2 linked regions of the Homo sapiens genome follow. The protein of the gene in region 2 interacts with the protein of the main gene of each other region in a pairwise test. Each region holds a gene or a part of one and is shown on either strand. Other genes may lie near its edges.

Region 1 (7,029 bases), on a different chromosome or scaffold from region 2:
GGCCGCCCCGTCTGAGAAGTGAGGAAACCCTCTGCCTGGCAACCGCCCCGTCTGAGAAGTGAGGAGCCCCTCCGTCCGGCAGCCACCCCGTCTGGGAAGTGAGGAGCGTCTCCGCCCGGCAGCCACCCCGTCCGGGAGGGAGGTGGGGGGGGTCAGCCCCCCGCCCGGCCAGCCGCCCCATCCGGGAGGTGAGGGGCTCCTCTGCCCGGCCGCCCCTACTGGGAAGTGAGGAGCCCCTCTGCCTGGCCAGTCGCCCCGTCCAGGAGGGAGGTGGGGGGGTCAGCCCCCCGCCCGGCCAGCCGCCCAGTCCGGGAGGTGAGGGGCGCCTCTGCCCGGCCGCCCCTACTGGGAAGTGAGGAGCCCCTCTGCCCGGCCAGCCGCCCCGTCCGGGAGGGGGGAGGGGGGGTCAGCCCCCTGCCCGGCCAGCCGCCCCGTCCGGGAGGGAGGTGGTGGGGGTCAGCCCCCCGCCCGGCCAGCCGCCCCGTCCGGGAGGTGAGGGGTGCCTCTGCCCGGCCGCCCCTACTGGGAAGTGAGGAGCCCCTCTGCCCGGCCAGCCGCCCCGTCCGGGAGGGAGGTGGGGGGGTCAGCCCCCCGCCCGGCCGGCCGCCCCGTCCGGGAGGTGAGGGGCGCCTCTGCCCCGCCGCCCCTACTGGGAAGTGAGGACCCCTCTGCCCAGCCAGCCGCCCCGTCCGGGAGGGAGGTGGGGGGGTCAGCCCCCCGCCCGGCCAGCCGCCCAGTCCGGGAGGGAGGTGGGGGGATCAGCCCCCCGCCCGGCCAGCCGCCCAGTCCGGGAGGGAGGTGGGGGGATCAGCCCCCCGCCTGGCCAGCCGCCCCGTCCGGGAGGTGAGGGGCGCCTCTGCCCGGCCGCCCCTACTGGGAAGTGAGGAGCCCCTCTGCCCGGCCAGCCGCCCCGTCCGGGAGGGAGGTGGGGGGGTCAGCCCCCCGCCCGGCCAGCCGCCCCGTCCGGGAGGGAAGTGGGGGGGGTCAGCCCCCCGCCCGACCAGCCGCCCCGTCCGGGAGGGAGGTGGGGGGATCAGCCCCCCGCCTGGCCAGCCGCCCCGTCCGGGAGGTGAGGGGCGCCTCTGCCCGGCCGCCCCTACTGGGAAGTGAGGAGCCCCTCTGCCCTGCTTGAAGGCAGCATGCTCGTTAAGAGTCATCACCACTCCCTAATCTTAAGTACCCAGGGACACAAACACTGCGGAAGGCCGCAGGGTCCTCTGCCTAGGAAAACCAGAGACCTTTGTTCACTTGTTTATCTGCTGACCTTCCCTCCACTATTGTCCTATGACCCTGCCAAATCCCCCTCTGCGAGAAACACCCAAGAATGATCAATAAAAAATAAAAATAAAAAAAAAAAAATAAAAAAATAAAAAAAAAAAAAAAGAAAGCCGCCTGACCTGTATACAGTATTCTGAAAAGGGGGTCGCGAGGTGCATGTCCAACCTCCGCCGCCGGGGGCAGCAGCGAGTCCAGGCCGAGCCGGGGCCTAGCGAGCGGGGTCAAATGGGGTGAGGCCTGTGCCAGACCTCTCCACCTCGGTGGCAGCCGCAGCCTCCTCCGCCTGCGGCTCCTGTCCACGCCGCGGCCACGTGAGCGCCAGATTCTGGCGCACAGACCACTGCCAGTCCTTTGCTGCTTTGCGCAGCCTGTCCTCCCCGCCAGGAGCACCCTTCCCGCTCCCTTTTACCACGGGCTCCAGCCGTGGCTGCCTTGGGGCTGCCGCCGCCTGGCTGTACTCCAGGACGTTGGGAAAGAACGGGTGGGAATGGTGTGGGTGGGGGTCAAAGAGGAAACCCAGAGATGCAGGGCGCCCCTTTCCCGTGGTCTGCCCCCAATTGCTCAGGCAGGCCAGTCACGGTGAGGCGTCCTCCCTCCAAGTTTATATTTATTATTATTTATTATTTATTTTTTTCACCTTCAAGTTTATTATTTATTATTTATTTATTTATTTTTGAGACGGAGCCTCTCTCTGTCGCCCAGGCTGGAGTGCATTGGCACGATCTTGGCTCACTGCAACCTCCGCCTCCCGGGTTCAAGCGATTCTTCTGCCTCAGCCTCCCGAGTAGCAGGGATTACAGGTGCATGCCACCACATCCGGCTAATTTTTGTATTTTTAGTAAAGACAGAGTTTCACCATATTGGCCAGGCTGGTCTCGAACTCCTGACCTCAGGTCATCTGCCCGCCTTGGCCTCCCAAAGTGCTGGGATTACAAGCATGAGCCACTGCACCTGGCTAACCTCCAAGTTTAAAGACAGCCGCCAGGCCCAGTGGCTCACTCCTGTAACCCCAACAACTCAGGAGGCTGAGGCCAGGAATTTGAGACCAGCCTGGGCAACATAGCGAGACCCCGGCTCTAAGAAAAATAGGCCAGGCACGGTGGGTTACGTCTGTAATCCCAGCACTTTGGGAGGCTGTGGCAAAAGGATTGCCTGAGGGGGAAAAAATCACCCTGGGGGTAGTGGTGCACACTTACAGTCTCGGCTACTTGAGAGGCTGAGGTGGGAGGATCATTTAAGTCGGAGGCTGCAGTGAGCTACTATGGAGCGACTGTATTACAGCTTGAGCAACAGAGCGAGACCCCATCTCCAAATAAATAAATAAAGATAGCCTCCAAAGATGTCACTTGCTTCACTTAGCACTTTTTATTGAACATATTTAGGAAATATATAACCATGGTAAAGAAAATTGCAATTAGTACAAATACACACTACACACATATGCACGTGCACACACTGAAACGTGTCCCTTCCAGCGCCTCCTGCCTGGATAATTTTTTTTTTTTTTGCAACGGAGTTTTGCTCTTGTTGCCCAGGATGGAGAGCAGTGGCGGGATATCGGCTCACTGCAACCTCCTCCTCCCGGGTTCGAGCGATTCTCCTGCCTCAGCCTCGCGAGTAGCTGGGATTACAGGCGCCAGCCACAACACCCGGCTGATTTTTGTATTTTTAGTAGAGACGGGGTTTTGCCAAGTTGGCCAGGCTGGTCTGGAACTCCTGAGATCCGCCCACCTCGTCCTCTCAAAGTGCTGGGATTACAGGCCTGAGCCACTGCGCCTGGCCTAAAGTAATTGTCTTCTTATTGGTTTCTCTGCCTTTGGTCTCACCAAACGCCCCACTCTAAATCACTGCAGACAAGGGGTTCTGTCTAAGGAGGAGAGCCCACCAGTTAAAACCCTTCAGTAGTTCCTAACTACCCTAGGACAAATGCAGACTTATCCTTCGCTCTCTGCTGCCGCCCCTCTCCTTCCCAGATCCCATATGGCTCCAGCCATATCCTCAGACCATCTGGGCTGTTGTCTGTCCTGCCACACACCCTTCCCACCCCGCTCCCTTGCAAGTCCTACTCAGGCTGCACCTACACAGCTGTCTCAGTTTCTATCTGAGGCTCCCGCAGCCTCCTCTGAAAGTCCTCATCACAGCCAATGATACTGAAACTGTTTTCTTATGCAGGGCACGGAAAGATCTATTCAACTCACTGCCCAATCTCCTCTCCTGGTGCAGAAAAGACACCCAGTCAGCGACTTGCATTATCTGCAGGCATGAGTGAATAATAATAATGCCTAACCCTTATATAGTGCTAATTCCACGCCTGGCACTGTTCTAGGCACTCATATAAATTCATGTAATCCACACAACCCCAAAACTGATGATATCTCTTCATCTTACCAAGCACTGAGCAGTTAAATAACTTGCTCCAGATATTAAGGGGTCGAGCTGGGGTTTGAAGCCTGGTTACCCATAAATGAACCAAGAACTGGAAGGAGGACAAGAGCTCCGAGAAGGAGTCAGGTAGGGCGTGATCTGTGCGCTTTACATCTAAGATCTTCCAGCTCCCAGGGAGCCCGTTTCATAGAGCAGGAGATAGAGGCTGGGAGGGACACGGAGAGCCTCGAGAGCCGTGTGGAGGAAGCGGTGCTGTTTGGGGTCCGGGAGCAAGGGCGTGGCCTGGATGCGCGGGCGCCCGGGACGGCACGTCCTCAGACCAAACTACAACTCCCAGGACCCAGCGGGCGCTGCCGCCCACGCGACGTCACGGCGGCGGAGGGCGCAGGCGGCTGGGCGCCTGGCGAGTGGACTGTTCGAGCCCTTCCGCTGGGACCCGGGCCCTGGCTCCGGCCCCGCGGTAAGTGGGGCGACCCCAGCCTACTCAGTCCGCGGAGGCCCCGCGGCGCACGTCCGCAGCCTCCATCACAGCGCGGGCGCGCAGACGGGGCTGGCATCTACCATATGGGGGGCATCCGGGCCGAACCAAGTGACCCGCGTGGGGGGTCCCGCTGGGGACTCCGTGCCGCACCCTCCCAAGCCGGCCCCAGGGGCCCAGGGCTGGTGTCGCACGTTCGCTGGCCGCGCTCCCAGGGCCCGGGTTTGAAGGCGCTGGGCAGGCAGGGGCAGCCCCGCCCCCTGAGAAGGGTACCCGGGACCCCGGGGCGCTGGGGCGAGGTTTTCGGGCTGGAAGGGTCTGAGGGGCTCCTCCCCCGACAGCCCTCCCACCGCCAGTAGAGCCTCGGGTTGGGGAATAGAAGCCCCCGGGAGGCTAGGTCCTTTGGGCGCGGCCTGTGTGCATCTGGGGAGACGGTGGGAGTGGTGGGGAGAGGTCGCCCGGGTCTGGGGAGACCGATGCACAGGTGGAGAGATGGTGCGGGTTCTGTGGATTCGGATCCTTACAACTTCCTCTTCCCCGCCCCGGTAGATGGGAGCTGCTCTCCGCGGGCTGAGCCTGTCAGCATCCTCGACGCACCCTGGTCCCTGAAGTCGGAGAAGAGCCCCTACCCACCCACACCCCCTTGCCCCATTTTGGGTCGCCTGGGTCCTCAGTCCTAGCGGATCCTCAGTCCTAGCGGCCACCGGGTCTGAAAGGAGCAAGACGATGATCCTGGCGTCGGTGCTGAGGAGCGGTCCCGGGGGCGGGCTTCCGCTCCGGCCCCTCCTGGGACCCGCACTCGCGCTCCGGGCCCGCTCGACGTCGGCCACCGACACACACCACGTGGAGATGGCTCGGGAGCGCTCCAAGACCGTCACCTCCTTTTACAACCAGTCGGCCATCGACGCGGCAGCGGAGAAGGTGCGCAAGGGGGCAGCCAGCCCAGGGTCCGGGATGTAGGCGGGAGGGAGAGTGTTGGGGGTTCTCTGCTCAAGGCCTCTCTCCCTCTCTAGCCCTCAGTCCGCCTAACGCCCACCATGATGCTCTACGCTGGCCGCTCTCAGGACGGCAGCCACCTTCTGGTAAGATTCACGCCCTCTATTTTCCTCGTGGATCCTGGAGCTCTCCCAGACACTCAGGCTCCAGCCCCGCCTTCCCTTCTCATTTTCTCCCAGAAAAGTGCTCGGTACCTGCAGCAAGAACTTCCAGTGAGGATTGCTCACCGCATCAAGGGCTTCCGCTGCCTTCCTTTCATCATTGGCTGCAACCCCACCATACTGCACGTGGTAAGGTAGAGAGGACCTTAGGTCAGCGGGCCACCCTGCCCCGGGGGCAAGTGGGGAGTCTGGGGCCCAGAGTGGCAGACGATTGCTTGCCTAAAGGTGTCAGGGCCACACAGGATTCAACCCCAGGCCTTCAGAAGCCAAAGGTGTGTATTCACGGAGCCTGGAAGGGTCGAAGTGGGGGTTTGATCACGTGGTCGACCAGCTGGGTGGTGATCCCCATGGGTAGGTGGGGGTGGCTGTTCTCTGCTCAGTGCCCATGCGGCTTTGTGAATTCCCACACCTCTTCCTTGCAGCATGAGCTATATATCCGTGCCTTCCAGAAGCTGACAGACTTCCCTCCGGTGAGTGCTGGGCCAGAGCAGGGTGAGGGGCTGAGAGGTTGGGCTTGGACCACCCTTCCTCATGACTCTGTGACCTGCAGATCAAGGACCAGGCGGACGAGGCCCAGTACTGCCAGCTGGTGCGACAGCTGCTGGATGACCACAAGGATGTGGTGACCCTCTTGGCAGAGGGCCTACGTGAGAGCCGGAAGCACATAGAGGTTGGGGCAGCAAAGGAGAGGCCGGGCCTGCTGGGGGTGGGAAGGGCACGGGATTCTGAGACCTCACTCTTTACAGGATGAAAAGCTCGTCCGCTACTTCTTGGACAAGACGCTGACTTCGAGGCTTGGAATCCGCATGTTGGCCACGCATCACCTGGCGCTGCATGAGGACAAGGTGGGGCTCTGGGACCTGAGACCCACCTGGGAACATTAAGTGAGACAGAGGAGACTGGGCTGGGGATCCGGGTCAAGGGCCTGGGGGCTGAGGCTGTGGGGCTGGTGCTTTGGGGCAGTTCCGAAGTTGCCAGCATCTTGGGGTGGGGCTAGGGGCGTGGGTAGTCCTGACCTCCTTTCTCCGGCCAGCCTGACTTTGTCGGCATCATCTGTACTCGTCTCTCACCAAAGAAGATTATTGAGAAGTGGGTGGACTTTGCCAGGTGAGGCAAGAATGGCTCAGGGGGTGGGCAGACATCTGGGGCAGGGAAGGCTTGGGTCTGAGCCCTTGCCCGGGGCATGATCTGCGGGGAGCAGGGTTTCTCAACCATGGCACTATTGACATTTCCAGCCAGATAATTCTTTGTCACAGGGGCTGCCCCGTGCACGTTAGGAAGTTCAGCAGCATCCCTGGCGCCAGCAGTACTGCCTAGTTGTGACAAACAAAAATGTCTCTGCACATTGCCATATGTTACTTAGGGGGGCAGAATTGTTTCCAGTTGCAAACCACTGGTGGAGGGGCCCCTGACTGAACCCTCGCTCCTATCCGCAGACGCCTGTGTGAGCACAAGTATGGCAATGCGCCCCGTGTCCGCATCAATGGCCATGTGGCTGCCCGGTTCCCCTTCATCCCTATGCCACTGGACTACATCCTGCCGGAGCTGCTCAAGAATGCCATGAGGTGGGGTGGCTTGATGTGCTGGCTTGGGGGCGGACAGGAACCGGGGTGCTTGTACCTACTGGTCTTTCCCCTCTGCATAGAGCCACAATGGAGAGTCACCTAGACACTCCCTACAATGTCCCAGATGTGGTCATCACCATCGCCAACAATGATGTCGATCTGATCA
Region 2 (6,891 bases):
ACTATTGACATTTGGCAACCTTGCTAAACTCTTACAAATTCCAATAATTTCACTGTGGATCGCCTGCAGTTCCAGGGGTTGGTAAACTATGAGCTGTGAACCAAATCTAACTTGAGGCCTGTTTGGGCAGGCTAAGAAGGTTCTTACCTTTTCATAAATGGTTGTAAAAGCAAACAAACAAATATATATATATATATAGCATAGTATGTGACTAGAGAGCCTAAAATACTTACTGTGAAAAAAGCAGACAATACAGAAATTAACTAGAAATTATTAAGATAATTGACACAGAGGGAGACTCTTTGTAAATTATCTTAAGAAGTTCTTAAGACAACATTGTTCTCATTCCGGCAGTTTTATTTTTCACTTTTAATCAACTTTAAGCCTATTAACTGTTTTCTATCATTCAATATCCTCTTTTTGCTGCAGTTAAAAATCTGCAAAAGTAGATTCTTCAAACTAAGATATAGTGACTCTGTCAAGCCCAGTTTCAAAAAGCATGTGACAAGACTATATTGCCAAGTTTAAACATATGCTCTATAGCAGAAATAGGGAAGAAATTCACTTATTACTTTATCCATGTAAGATTTATTAAACATGTAACTTCGTTGGAACCAACAAAGCTACTTTCATGTTTTTATGTTGTTCTTTTTAGATATTTAGATTAACCAGATAATCTTAAATTATCTTAGAAATTAGAAAGTTTCTGCAGTATTGTTACATTTGTTCCAAGTATACAAGTTGTTTCTATGCACTACCTTCTCAATCCTGTGAAAGAAGTCTATTACCAAAGCAATTTCTAACACATTGCTCAAAAGACACAGTAACGTTGTGAAAGGCATTTTGTTGGATTTAGTCCCATTTTAGTATCCCCTTAAAAAGTTTGACTGATGACTCTGGATATTCAGCCAACAGTGTTGTGTCAAAAACTTGCTTGAATTTATCTAAAAATTCATAGTCGGTGCTGAACCTGAATTTGTTTGCCCAAAGCAGCACCGTCCCTGGCTGGGAAAGGTACACCATGGTGGTGAGCAGCTTGTCCAGGAAGTAGTGATGGTAGACCACATCTGAGGCTAGGACGTAATCATAGTAAAAAGCTGACTTGGGAAAGTTTTTGTCCAGGTCTTCCCCCCATACCAGTTCTTTCACTTCAGGCAGATGTGCTGTACATTGTAGTGTGTTTTTTAAAAGATTGTATTGAAGGTTTCCCAGGACATCAGGCAAATCTGTTGCTGTGACTTGAGCTCCTAAGAGAAAAAGAAAACAATGACCTGGAAACATCTGGGCAGTCACAGTGTACATATACCCAGGGAGAAACACAAGAAACAACTGGATTCCTTAGCCTTGGCTCTATTGGTGGGTGGGCTGGACATGTTTGACCTAATGTGGGCTGGCTAATTCTTGTGGGTGGTCCGTCCCGTGCACTGTAAGATGGTGAGCAGCCTCCCTGGCCTCCAACCACCTGATGTCAGTAGCTCCCCCACCTCACCTCACCTGTGGGATTGACAACAGAGATTCAGAGTCATGCCTCTGGACTCAACTTCGTCCCATGGAAACTGGTTGATTGGAGTTTATTAACCTCTCTGAGACTCAATGATCTCTGTAGATAACAGCAGTAATTCCTGCCGCATGACATTTTGGGGAGAGTCACTGAGTGAAGTTAGGGCCAGGCACCTAAACCACAGCCTGTCATAGAGTAAGCACTTGCTATTGTTGTTACAGTAAAGATCTGGATACTAGGTCAGGAATAAACAAACAAACCTAAAATACTGGCCACAATGGAAACAAGGCCTGGTCCGGCACCAATTTCAAGTATTTTTGCATCTTGGAAATTCAATTCCTCGGCATGTTCCTCCAAGTATTGACACAAAGCCATAGCCTAAAAAATAATTATAACTTTTCATGTGGGCATTGGAACATTGGAAACCAGTAGCAACCCTTTCTGGCACCCAAATTTAAATACTAAAAGACATGTTATTACATATGTTCAGTTTATATTCATAAGAACCCAAATGTACACTCAATGCCATATTTAGACCTCTGAAATAAAGAAGTTATAATAAATTGCATCTCAGGAACTGGGGAAAAAGATTTGTTAAATTGCCTCCTAAATCTCCAAAGAATAGGAAGAACAGTAGATCAGCTTAGCTCTTTCAAATCAGGGCAATGTTGGGCTAAAAGAACAGCAACTCCTTCCACTGGTTTAATCATGTTGGTCTCCAACTGCTTTAGGAATGTTGTTTTATGTTAGAATTCTTTCTTGTAAGAGAGTTTTTTAAATTATAGAAGTAATTTTTTAAAATGTCAATTTATAAACTTGAACACCTCTTTCCTGACTCCTTTACCAAAATTCAGGTTGGCGAGCACTTTGCCGTATTGAGCGACGGGTTAGTGACTTTTTTTAAAGTGGTTCTTCTAAGAAACAGACAGTTCAGAAACTGCTTCTCAGACTTCAGTGTGCAAACAGATTCCCTGGATAGCTTGTTAAAGATGCAGATCCTCATTCAGTAGGTCGAGAGTGGGGCTCAAGATCCTGCACGTCTAAACAAGCCCTGACATGATGCTCATCTGCTGGCCCATGTACCCACTTTGAGTAGTAGCAAGCAGATTTTTTTAAATGTTTTATATATCAACAAATATTGTTAGTTTTTTATACAGGAAATCAAACTTCCCTTTCTTCTTTATTCGTTCTCTTCTCCCTCCACCTTCCTCTAACCTTTCCACAAAGAGTAAAGGGTATTTGATTTGCATTGATTGCTGAGGTGTTTACGTGTATGGCAATGAGGCATCAACTAGCAGTGCCCTTGATTGGAGAGATTAGGAAGAGTTATGAGAAGAAATGACAAAAAGTTACTTAAATTTGAGTATAAATAGCCCAGCGTGAGGAACGTGAACACTGAGATTTAAAAAACAATGAACTCTATAATTTACTTATACATTTAGGCCCTAGCTAAAGATATGCCCCCATCTTCCTCTGGACTCTACTTTCTATTTGGGGCCCAGTTTGGAGTGGGGGCAGCCAGGATGATTGGAGACGTGTCACTCTTAGGATTACCAGTGGTAGGTTTGGTAGCCAACCTGACCCTGTACGTCACTCCATTTCATCCTCATCTGTTCATATTGAACTGCCACGGGCAAAGATGAATATGACGCAGTCACCTCTACTGTCTGGGAACTCAGTGGTGGGGCTTAGGGGCCATGTCAGCCAATTACAAACTGAATTCTGGGGAGGTAAGTGCTGTAGAGGAGGCAGACAGCTGGTTGAAGGGAGAGGGGTCACCACAGAGCCGCCGAGGAGTCTGGGCCGACTTCATGGGGCCGGGGAGAAGCCAGCTGGTGTGGAAGGCCAGGGCGGTGGGTAAAATAGCAACATGGTGTGACATAAATAGCACCAACTGCAGCACGCTGCAGGGAGCTCCAGAGCTTAGAAGGGAAGTTTTGAAGAAAGGAGTTCTTTGGTCCTTAAGGAGAGAAGAGAAGTATTTGCTGTGGGGGCTGGGAGGAGGGGGTCAATGTCAGGAAAAGAGTGTCACCTAGAGCCATTCAGAGGGCAGCTCTGAGGAACTTCCTGGAGATGGCTGCAGGGGTCCTTCCTGGTGCCCTGCCCTGTGAGGGGCTGGCCGCAGGGTGTCATGCGGAGACAAAGCTTTTCTCAGGGACAGCTGTGTCTTTTGACATTGCAAACATTCCCCCGCCAGCCCCTTGTCCTGTTAGCAAACTCTGAAGAGATCTTTTCACAGAGTTGCACCTGAAGTCGCACAGGAAAAGGGCGCCTTCCCACTCTAGATGCCCTTCTTGTGCAGCTTTCAGGAAGCAGGTTTCATGAGAGGCTAGTGTTTGGTGCATGAGTGATACCTTGTTCAGAATAAAACAGGGGGACAAATATTCTTTTTTCAATTTCTGATCTTTTTTTTAAAATTATTATTTTTAAAAGGGAGATGGGGTCTCACTATGTTGCCCAGGCTGGTCTCAAACTCCTGAGCTCAAGCGATCCTCTTGCCTCGGCTTCTGAAAGTGCTGGGATTACAGGCATAAGCCACATGCCCGGCCTCTGATCTCTTACTATACCACTTTCTCGCTACACCACTGCTGTCGTCTATTTGCTGAATGTGTTACAATAGGAAGCTGTGAGTAGTTTGGTGATTTTCAAACTCGTTTTTAAGGCAAAGAAAAGCCTTTAGTTGAAGGAAATTATATGCATAAGGTGTAAAAATAGAGCTCCCTGTTTGGGAGTGAGTGAAGGTCGACACCTAAGAGCCTGAAGCCCTTTGGCTACCCTTCTCCCCATCCTGTGCCATCGCCAGATGACCTGAGGGAGCCCCGTGGAACCACTAACCAGGAATACTCAATGTGGGCACCCTGGCCCAGCAGATAGGCATCACCCCGGAATGTGTAAGACCTCCTGAATCAGAATCCGCATTTTAACAAGACTGCAGATTGAGAACTTCTGATCTGGAGCCTTTCTAATCACTGACAACATCCGCAGTGGGAAAAGCAACCACACTGGCTCTGAGGGCCACTGTCTATCTTGGCTCTGCCCTGCACCCCAGTCGGGAGCTTTACCACGCCAGCAGACTGGCCTGCGTTCCCATTTCCTCAGCTGAAAGGTGGAAAGAATATTACATTAATGAGGACAGTTCATGTGAGCTTACGCTAGGACTTCATTTAATCTCACAATCTGAAATTAATTCTCACAATTCTGACAACCACGTCAGGAGCACTGTAGACATTACGACCACCCTAGGTTTTAAATATGGAAATGAAGGCAAACGGAGGTGAGGTGAACATTTGTGACTACCCAGCCCTGAAATGGCAGCTTTTCTGACTAAAAATCCAGAGGACTGCCCCCATTTCAGCGCCATCCTCTCAGGGCTGTGGCAGGGGTGACATGCCACAAAGTCATGCTTCCTAAACATCCCTACCGACACAGCCCCCATGGAAAAGAGATGAATGGCTGGCCGGCCGGGCGTGGTGGTTCACGCTTGTAATCCCAGCACTTTGGGAGGCCGAGGTGGGCAGATCACTTGAGGTCAGGAGTTCAAGACCAGCCTGGCCAATATGGTGAAACCCTATCTCTACTAAAAATACAAAAATTAGCCAGGCATGGTGGCGCGCACCTGTAGTCCCAGCTACTCGGGAGGCTGAGGCAGGAGAATTGCATGAACCCAGGAGGTGGAGGTTGCAGTGAGCCAAGATCGTGTCACTGCACTCCAGCCTGGGTAACAGAGTGAGACTCCATCTCAAAAGAAAAAAAAAAAAAAGAGAGAGATGAATGGCTGAGGGTCGATGGGCGTGGCTCGGAGATGCCCACTGCAAAATCTAAACTCTAAATCCCTGGGTTTATTCTTAACAATTTATACAAGTTTTGCATTCACTTCCTCATATAGCTGAGTTTATTTAATATAAAAATAATGTTTCGAGAAACAGAGCTTGAAGCAAAACCAGTGTTTCTGAAAGAAACACTGTTTTTGCTGATCCCAAGCACTCCACCAACACCCTCCAGGGGGCAAGCAACTGAACCTCAAATTGAGAAGCAGGATATGAAGGAACTTGACAAATTGTCCAAGGCAACTCTGAAGTACGGAATTGTTATCTCCAGAAATCCTGACATCACAAATATGACAGTTCTCTCACCCCTGGCCACACCACCGCTCCGTAACTCTCTATGGATTCCTGGATGACAATCTCCTTTCCTGCAAACCGATAATGCTCCTGAGTGTAGCTGGCGTAATCTGTAGGAACAAATTTCTGGAGGCTATGAAGAGATGGTTCTATCTTGTTGGATTCTGTGAAGCAGAAAAATAAAATGGAGTTCATGATTTGTTCAAATCCAGTGCAAAGACACACTTGGTATAATTGCTAAGATGGCATTAGATTGAATGACCTTTACATAAAGAGAAGGGATGATGCTATCAAGGAGAACGGCTGCAAATTGGCACAAAATTGAATTATATGGGGTGATGGGGACATGAAATTTGGATGTGACAGTTTTATCAGATGACAAAATGCCAAAGAATGCTCTGGGCCTTTTCTTTATTTAGGGGAGGACAGAAGATGTGTGGATCGGTCCCCACCCTAAATTTTGCTGATGGAAAAATGGCGAACTTACCAGCAAAATTGCACGAATGAGCTGTCTGGATACAGAGGAACTAGGTAAACACAAACCTGCCTTTTTTTTTTTTTCTTTTTGAGACAGAGTCTCACTCTGTTGCCCAGGCTAGAGTGCAGTGGTGTAATCTCAGCTCACCGCAACCTCTGCTTCCCGGGTTCAAGTGATTCTCCTGCCTCAGCCTCCTGAGTAACTGGGATTACAGGCGTGCGCCACCACGCCCAGCTAATTTTTGTATTTTTAGTAGACACGGGGTTTCACCATGTTGGTCAGGCTGGTCTCAAACTCCTGACCTCGTGATCCACTCGTCCTGGCCTCCCAAAGTGCTGGGATTACAGGCGTGAGCCACCACGCCCCGCCAGACCTGCCTATTTTTAGGTCTTGAAGTGAAGTAACATTCCCACGTGTTGGCTGGAGCATGTTCCTTCAATCTTTCCTACAATTGCTGTTCAAAAGGTAGAGGCCCAGCCAGCCCCACAGCCCTGGGGGAGGATGTCAGCTGAGCTCTGGCTATTAAGTTACTATTGCTTTAAATACTCCTTTAAACCCATGACCCATCTAGCAGCTCTCAGATGGCATATAAAATGAGAGGAAAAGAGCACCTGATCGGGCTGACATCAAGAGATCACAAGTGTTTGCAGGTTTTCCAGAGTGTTTAGGAATAAAAGAGCAGTGAGTCAAAGTGTGTGGAAGAAGGAGCAGGAGCAGAGGAAAAGGTGTTGGTCCCAGCGGGTGGGAAAGAATTAACAGTGCGGAGAGTAGGGGGGAGGAAGGTCAGTTTT

Evidence for each region.
Region 1: the proteins of METTL21C (region 2) and BCKDK interact in binary tests that used the Homo sapiens proteins (3 or more experiments, as listed by UniProt).

What each region holds. Positions count from the first base shown.
Region 1 is NC_000016.10:31,104,357-31,111,385, forward strand, and holds the start of BCKDK (branched-chain alpha-ketoacid dehydrogenase kinase isoform a precursor), read left to right. Parts: upstream 1-4,029; 5' UTR 4,030-4,123; intron 4,124-4,690; 5' UTR 4,691-4,867; coding exon 4,868-5,062; intron 5,063-5,154; coding exon 5,155-5,223; intron 5,224-5,316; coding exon 5,317-5,427; intron 5,428-5,720; coding exon 5,721-5,768; intron 5,769-5,848; coding exon 5,849-5,968; intron 5,969-6,044; coding exon 6,045-6,143; intron 6,144-6,331; coding exon 6,332-6,405; intron 6,406-6,734; coding exon 6,735-6,863; intron 6,864-6,943; coding exon 6,944-7,029. UniProt on the Homo sapiens protein: Serine/threonine-protein kinase component of macronutrients metabolism.
Region 2 is NC_000013.11:102,685,179-102,692,069, forward strand, and holds the end of METTL21C (protein-lysine methyltransferase METTL21C), read right to left. Parts: intron 5,787-6,891; coding exon 5,635-5,786; intron 1,880-5,634; coding exon 1,762-1,879; intron 1,248-1,761; coding exon 853-1,247; 3' UTR 569-852; downstream 1-568. UniProt on the Homo sapiens protein: Protein-lysine N-methyltransferase using S-adenosyl-L-methionine as methyl donor. Mono-di and trimethylates 'Lys-943' of AARS1.